Linked DNA regions of Homo sapiens. The protein of the gene in region 2 purifies or fractionates together with the protein of the main gene of each other region. This does not show direct contact. Each region holds a gene or a part of one and is shown on either strand. Other genes may lie near its edges.

What was found.
Region 1: the proteins of AMER1 (region 2) and NPHP4 purify together in Homo sapiens (co-immunoprecipitation; one large-scale study listed by IntAct). This does not show direct contact.

What each region holds. Positions count from the first base shown.
Region 1 is NC_000001.11:5,908,786-5,912,593, forward strand, and holds part of NPHP4 (nephrocystin-4), read right to left. Parts: intron 429-3,808; coding exon 367-428; intron 1-366. UniProt on the Homo sapiens protein: Involved in the organization of apical junctions; the function is proposed to implicate a NPHP1-4-8 module. Does not seem to be strictly required for ciliogenesis. Required for building functional cilia.
Region 2 is NC_000023.11:64,195,549-64,199,356, reverse strand, and holds part of AMER1 (APC membrane recruitment protein 1), read left to right. Parts: intron 1-3,808. UniProt on the Homo sapiens protein: Regulator of the canonical Wnt signaling pathway.

The DNA.
Region 1 (3,808 bases), on a different chromosome or scaffold from region 2:
GAGTTAGTCTGGGAGAGCAAAGAGGGTGAGGACCACACCTCGATGTCTCTCAGAAAAAGCAAAGGCCGTCCAGTCCTGAGAGTTGCCACCATGAGATGCAGCTGCCAGGGAGATGTGGAGACGCCCCATACAGCAGCATAGGGGTTGCAAGCAGCAGCCCCACTAAAAGCCCGCACTGGGAGTCAGAACATCAGGGACAGGCTGCACAGACAGGGTAGGAGGGGACAGCCCCGCCGCCGCCAGCAGGCCCTCCCCAGCCACGCAGAAGCACGCAGGGATCCACTGTGCTTAAGGGGGGACAGAGGGTTTTCTTGCAAGTAATTGACTCTGGAATTCTGAAGGAGGCCGTGGGGGGCCTGGACTTACCCCTGGTCCCACAGGTGAGTTCTGCGGGGCAGCGAGAACTCGAGGTACTGGCGCTGGCGGGCCTGGGAGGAAGCACAGTGGGGTAGGAGAGGGAATGTGTCAGCCTGTGTTGGGGGCAGTGGGCCCCTGAACCCCCACGCAGTCAGGTCTCCACAGGCCTCACCACCTTGTCTGTAACAGGGGCAGCCGCTGGTTACCGTTCAGGGGCAACAGCAGCAAGGGTGCCACCCAAAAGTGTCGCTGTCTATCTAGAGCCCTGGCATGCACCAGCAGCCAGGAGAGGGGGTACAGCTGGCCTCGTCCTCACTGTTCTTCCTGGGCCAGCAGGTCTCACAGCTTGGGGTGCTTGGAGCTCCCTAACACGCTTCTCCTCACTAGTCATCTTTGCATCTTCCCTGCCCGGAAGAGCTGGGGTCTGAGGTTGCCCCAGTCTTGCAGCTCCCTGACTCCGGCTGTTTTGTTAACCGAGAAGCTCCTGAGCAGACACTGCCAACCTGGCTTGCGGCCTCACGAACACCCACTAAGCACAAGCTGTCCGCCAGGTCCTGCTGAGGATTCTCCATGCAGGCCCGGTAACACTGGGAGGCGCACCTGGGGGAGGCAAGGCCAGCCCTTCATGGGGTCCCCCTGGAGCCAGGGACTGAGAACTGCCTTGGCCCTTTATAAGGCCACAGCTGCCTCCCAAGCATCCAGGGGCTGCCTAAAGAGCCAGCAGCCTCCTCCCAGGGCCACCTGTACCTGCCCAGCCCCGCCTCAGCCCAGCTGGCATTTGTGCTGCTTCTGCAACCCCTCCCCAGGCCACATGGACACCTCATGGCCCAGCAGACCCAGGGCTCTCAGCCCCTGCACCTCAGCAGGAGGAAGCCCCAGCATCGCTGGAGTCTCTGAAACCCACCAGGCTCCTGCCACAGCGGTGCTGGAGCGTCCATAGCCACTCGTCTCTTACGGTCATTTCACATACACTGCCATTTGCCTTTGCCCACCATGAAACCACCAAGCCAGACCCCAAGCCCATCCTGACGGGGCCACCTCTGCCCACTCAGAGGCCAGGGTGGGAGCCCTGCACACTGAGTCATCTGCCTGGCTTCCCTGAGGCCCACAGCCCAGTCTCCAGCCCATGTCCTGTCCCCACCTGGCTCATGACAGCCTCCTTCACGGTGACAGGACTCTCCACTGCAGCAGACACTACCACTCCCCATCGGACTTCCAGGATAACCCAGACCTCCGGAGAAATCAGGCTTCCCCCATGGCCCTGTCCCACCTCCCGTCACCCCCATGTGGCCCACATCTTGGGCCCAGCAGCTCGCCTTCCCTCCCTCTCCTGTGGCCTCTGCTGCCATGAAGGTTGGGCAAACGAATCTCCTATATGTCCTGGTATCCTGAATTCCTATGGCACAGAGCACAGGCCGGCACTTACGGGACCTACGGACCAAGCACACAGCACAGAGGCCTGTGACGTCAAACGCTGGGCACTCTGGATAGAGACTGCTCAGCCACTTCGTGTTCCGCTCTGAATCCCAAAAAAACAAAAACAACAAGGAAAATGCTGTCGACCAAGGAGAAACCAAATCCAGAAAGTGCCGCCCTAACACCAGAGCTGCACGACCATCGGAGCCAATCCCCGCCGTGCCTCTCCCAGCAGCTTCCAGAACCCATCCAAGGAGGTGCTTCCCCAGCTGCAGGATCTGGTGGAAACCCTGCTAAGGGCCTGTGGATGGGTGGAAGGCATTGGGGCAAGGCCAGAGGGAGCCCCCAACCCTCAGAGGATCCAACTGCCCAGCCTGGCGGGCACAGCTCCCAGTCCAACTACCTCCTGGGCAGCGCCCATTTGGCCCGCGCAGCTCCTCTGTAACCAGCCACAGTAACGTGGCTCCAAGGAGCACAAAGACTCTGGTCAGAGGAACCTGCCCTTCTATAAATGAGCTCACGTGCTCGGAGGGAGTTAGCAAATGATCTAGCAAGCTCTGCTTCCCCAGGAAAATATCATCTCACTAAAAGCAAAATGCAGATGAGGATTCTGCAGGGGCCCAGCTGTCCTCAAAGCCGATGCCTCTCCCCAGATTCCCTGAGTGCCTCTTACAGTCCATTTCAGAGCTCCGTACGGCAAACCCCTGCCCACCTCCTCCCAGAAAAAGCCTGAAAGATGACACAGCAGAGTGGTAAGTGAAGCTCCACGCCGTTCCTCCGTAAATGGGAACTCGGAAAACTCCGCAGGCTGATTTTGATAATGAGGACAAATTGCCAGAAATGGCTCCATTATCTTCAGCAGAGACAGCGGGCACTCGGGGGCCAGCCCTCCGTGCCTGTGTGCGTCCTCTTGGGGAGGAAAAGCTGGATGAAAAGTTAAACCTTCCAAGCACATCTGAACTTCTCGCATGCATTTTATTTCCCCATCGTCTCAAATTTGCATACAGTGTGGAAAGTTTTTTCAAGTAACTCTTTATATCATGACTTATGCAATTTTTTCTTCCAAGAGAGTAAACCTACCTACAAGGCCATTTAAAAAGGCCATTAAAGGTGGCCATTTAAAAAGATACCTGGTGGGAAGCCCAGACCCCCAGGGCCCAAAACTCAGATCCAACCGGTGAAGCAGAGCAGGAAGAGACACACCAAGGCCACGAAATAACTCAGTTTCGAATCTCTTTGTTTTAATGTTCGATGTGGTTATGGGTTAAGGTGCTTCCCAAACTATACTCATAGTCCTGCCCAGAGGACAGCGCGGCCGCCAGGGAGCACCCGCTGTACTCCAGGCCCCAGGAGTCTTCCAAAAACCACGGTGGAGTCTGGGAAGCCTGACTTCCGCCACATAACAGGACTTGGCTGACAAGCACCTGGGCCAGCAACTGAACCGGGAGCAGCATGCGTGTGCACAGGACACAGGTAGGAGCAGCTGCGGTGAGCAGACAGACGAGCACAAGGCTGTCTGGGGCAGCGCTGCGACAACAGCAAAACATTAGACACAATCCTGGTGCTCCTGCAAATGGAAGCTACCTCAGCAGAACCCGGCAGATCCTGCGTGGGGCAGGGGAGCAATGGGATGGGAGGAGACCAGCCGGTGTGTGCAGAACTGGGAAGGCAGCCGCGGCAAGTTAAAAAGTGACGATAGGCCGGGCACGGTGGCTCACGCCTGTAATCCCAGCACTTTGGGAGGCCGAGGCGGGTGGATCACAAGGTCAGGAGATCGAGACCATCCTGGCTAACACGGTGAAACCCCATCTCTACTAAAAATACAAAAAATTAGCCGGGTATGGTGGTGGGCACCTGTAGTCCCAGCTACTCAGGAGGCTGAGGCAGGAGAATGGCGTGAACCCGGGAGGCGGAGCTTTCGGTGAGCCGAGATCGCGCCACTGCACTCCAGCCTGGGCAACACAGTGAGACTCCGTCTCAAAAAAAAAAAAAAAAAAGAAAAAAGAAAAAAGAAAAATGAAAGAAACCCACAGTG
Region 2 (3,808 bases):
GTTGAATCAGCATTGTTTGAGCTCCTGCTGTGTGCTAGTTGTAGTGACTGTAAGATGAAGGAGGGTCAATTTGAGAGAGATGAATGAACAGACCAAAGCCCGTCAGGATGAATTATACAAAGCTCAGTATGTAAACAAATCAGTTGAGAGGGGCTGGTGGGGGAATTGGGACAGGAGAGAGAAGTCCCAATTTGGGGTCTTGCTGCATCTGGAGTTGGTGAGATGCCCTCTGGGCAGGAGGTGCCCCTCAGCAGGAAGGCTGCAAATTAGGGGAGGAGCTGAAGGGGCTCTGCCAGCTGCATCTACAACTCCATCAGCCAACCAAGCCAAGCAGCCCTTCCTTTAGGCTCTGACCAAATAGTTTTGAGGGCAGTACTTGGCTATGGGTGTTAAAAATGGATCATTCAAGTTCCAGATCATCTGATAAGTCATTTTCTTCAAATAGCTCAAATTCTGCATCTTTGTCCACGTTGGCAGGTTTCTCGTTTTTGGGCCACTCAAACCTATCTCTTAAGGAAAAGGGGAGTAGAGTGACATGTCCTGTAGTTTGAGAGGAGTGGTGGTAGGGTTGCTGATGAGGAGAGCAGCCACAGGCTGGGTTGTTGGCCCCTAGATTCTGATGTCAGCAGGCTTCCTGGAATGTGTTTGGTAGGACCCAAACAGTGGCAACCAGTGAGGACTGGAAATGTGGCAAAGAAGGCTTAGCAGGGCTGGGACAGAGGTGGGATGGGATTGGGAGATTATAGTTCTTGCTGGTGTGAGGGTAAACTTTGCAGTTCTCTTGCTCAGTCTTCCTCCTTTGATTGGTGGCCTGCACAGTGCAGCAGAATGGCATGAAATTGAGACTCAACAGTTCTGGGAGCTAGTGTGGCTCTGTCACCATTTCACTATGTGACCTTGGACAAGTCTTTTCCCAAGTCTAGGCACAGTTTCCTTCTCTGTGACAAGGAGTTGCCATCCCCCACCAGGCCTGAGTAATGGGTGGCTGAGGAGGGCAAATGGGGGGGTATGGGAGTAGGGAGTGCTTTATAAAGTGGTAAATACCCTGAGGGTGAAGGATATCTGTTGATTTGCATTTCCTTTGATGTTGGTACTTTTAGCTGAGTTTGACCTGGGCTAGAGAACCTGGCTAGTTGAAAGTCCCAGATAATCCTTGGCTGCTAGCCAGTAGCTGACTCTTTTAGGTCCCTGAATATCAAAAGTTGGCTAAATGAGCAAGTAAAGCCTCCTATGACATGACCACACAGTTATCTTCATTTACCATTTGCCATTTGGGAAAACTGAGCCCCAAGGAGGTTTGGTGACTTACCCACAGAGCCCTAGGGAGCACCCTACTCAACCTGACTGAGATGATTTTACTTCTAGAAATTGTTCTACCACAGTTTGAATAAAATATGAATAAAAGTTGGTTACTATAATGTTTTTAGCTTCTGCTATGTAATGCACTTGATTTGGTACATTATGTGCATTGGTTTTACTTCTTACAATAGCCTTAAGAGGTAGGCACTCTCAATGACCTCATTTTACAGTTAAGGAAATTGAGGCATAAACATGGGAAAAAACTTGCTGGATTTCCCCTAGCTGGGCAGAGTTGATTCCAGCGCTGAAATGGCCAGCTCTCTGGAGGGCCATCCTCACCATTTTTTCTTTAACCAACCCTCCCCAACATACAGAAGGGCAGGTGGGCCTGAAGTGGGCTTGCTTTCAGGAAGACTGTTTGGAACAGGCCTGAGGAACTATGGCTGGTCAAGGCCATGTCTCTGGAGCTACTGCATAAATCCACTTGCTTCTTTTTCTTCCCCCAATTCAGCCCTCTTCAAGTTGGCCATGCTGGCCCCGGGAAGCTGATTTGGAGCAGAATGTGCAAGGCTCATATTGCAGCTGTCCCTTCTCCTTGAGAAGGGTCTCTAGGGCAGGTATGTGGCTGGCCTCCTGCCTATGTTTTAAGTGGAGAGGAGAAGGAAGAAGCTCTTCCTTTGTAGCCAGCCTTCCACTGGCCCCAGAATGGCTTGAATCTGGCTCAGGGAGCTGGAATGGCCCCAGCGCTTTCTACCACAGCCTGCTTTCTGCCATGATAGCAGCTGCTGCAGCAGGCAGTCCCTGCAAGGGACCACAGAGTGGCTTGGGAGGGTTCTCTTAACCCCCAGCCCACCTGAAACTCAGCCACACTGGTTAAGGAACATGAGGGTTGTGGGGCCCTGCATTTGGCAGTGCCACTTTCTTGACAGGACCCCCAGGGAAAGCCAGTCCCAGCCTAGGGGATCTGCAGAGTCTGTCCTTTGCTGTCTCCTTTGCTTTCTGCCCCACCTCACTCTCTTGGTGAACTCTTGTGGTCCTAAGTAAAGGCAGCATAACCCATTGAGGAAGGATAGCTTTGGCACCTGGTTGGATAGCAAAGAGTATGGAGAAGAGGCCTAAGGCAGAGGTAGCTAGGTGGGGCTACGCTAGGGAGCTACCAGCTATGGGTGACCCTGCCACCTTCCTTCCCAGTGTTCTGGGTGACATAGGCAGAGATACTGTGAATGACTGTGGGGGGACATGGCTCTGGGAGAGAGAACACAGAGTACCAGTTTAAGGCTGGTATCTGCCAGCAAAGATGACTCTGGACTTGGTTAGGAGAAGGGCCTGAACTGGACGGAGAGAAACTCCATCCCAGGGACACCCTGCGTAATTCATCTGTCTCCCACAACACACAGAGAGGGCTTTTCAAACCTCTTAGCAGAGGAGTTTGTATAGATATACACACCTTTTTAAAATCCCCTCATATCTGTCTCCCTCTCAGCATGGGCCAAGGCAGCAAGTCCCTGAGCTTCCCACAGTGAATGGCTTTCCCAAATGAACAGCCTTTAACACATGGTCAGTTGCTTCCTAAGAAACTGGGATCTGACCTGGAAGGAGTAATAATAACTGTAATGACAGTCTTTCTCATTTGCACTGTACTATACAGTTTATAAAGTGCTTTTTTTGTGCCTATTATCACATCAACTCATCACACCACTGTAGTTGGAGTGGGCAGGTAGAAGGATAGGTAGAGGAGCTGTTTTGATCTCAAAATAGCTCACAAGTACCTGCGTCTCAGCAGGCTACACTGGCCCATTCAGGGTCCCTTGGCAGATGGGAGGCTGACATGGCCTGGACCCCAGCCCTGTGGTCCATGGCTCCTTCCACAACACACTGCAGCTCCCTGTGACAGGAAAGGGGACAATACAGAGAGAGGTGAGTGGGCTGGCCTCTACCCTCACAGAGCATAGGAGCAAGGGCAAGGGAAAGCCCAAAGAGACTGTCTTCTAACTGGGGCGTCAAGGCTCTGGAAAGCAGCCTTCTTTGTGATTCAATTTGCCAAATCACTCTGTTCCCAGGAACTCCAGCCCCAAACCCAGCAGGACAAGTCAGCCTTTGATTCACAAGGATGTGTAGGTCCTAGAGTTTTTCACTTGGCTGTGAGGTTTTCCTTGAGGCCCAGCCTTACTGCCCAAGAAGTGTCTTTCTCCCTTTCACATTTATCTTGGAATATGTTTACAAGGTATAAAGAATGATACTCCACCAACCAGCTTTAGAAATAACAGGGGCTATTCTTTAAGGCAGCGGTTCCCAACCTTTTTGGAACCAGGGACCTGTTTCATGGAAGACAATTTTTCCATGGATGGAGAGGAGGAAGGTTTTGGGATAAAAGTGTTCCATCTCAGATCATCAGGCATTTGTTAGATTCTCATAAGGAGAGTGCACCCTAGATCCTTCGCATGCGCAGTTTGCAATAGGGTTCACGCTCCTATGAGAATCTAATGCCTCTGCTGATCTGACAGAAGGC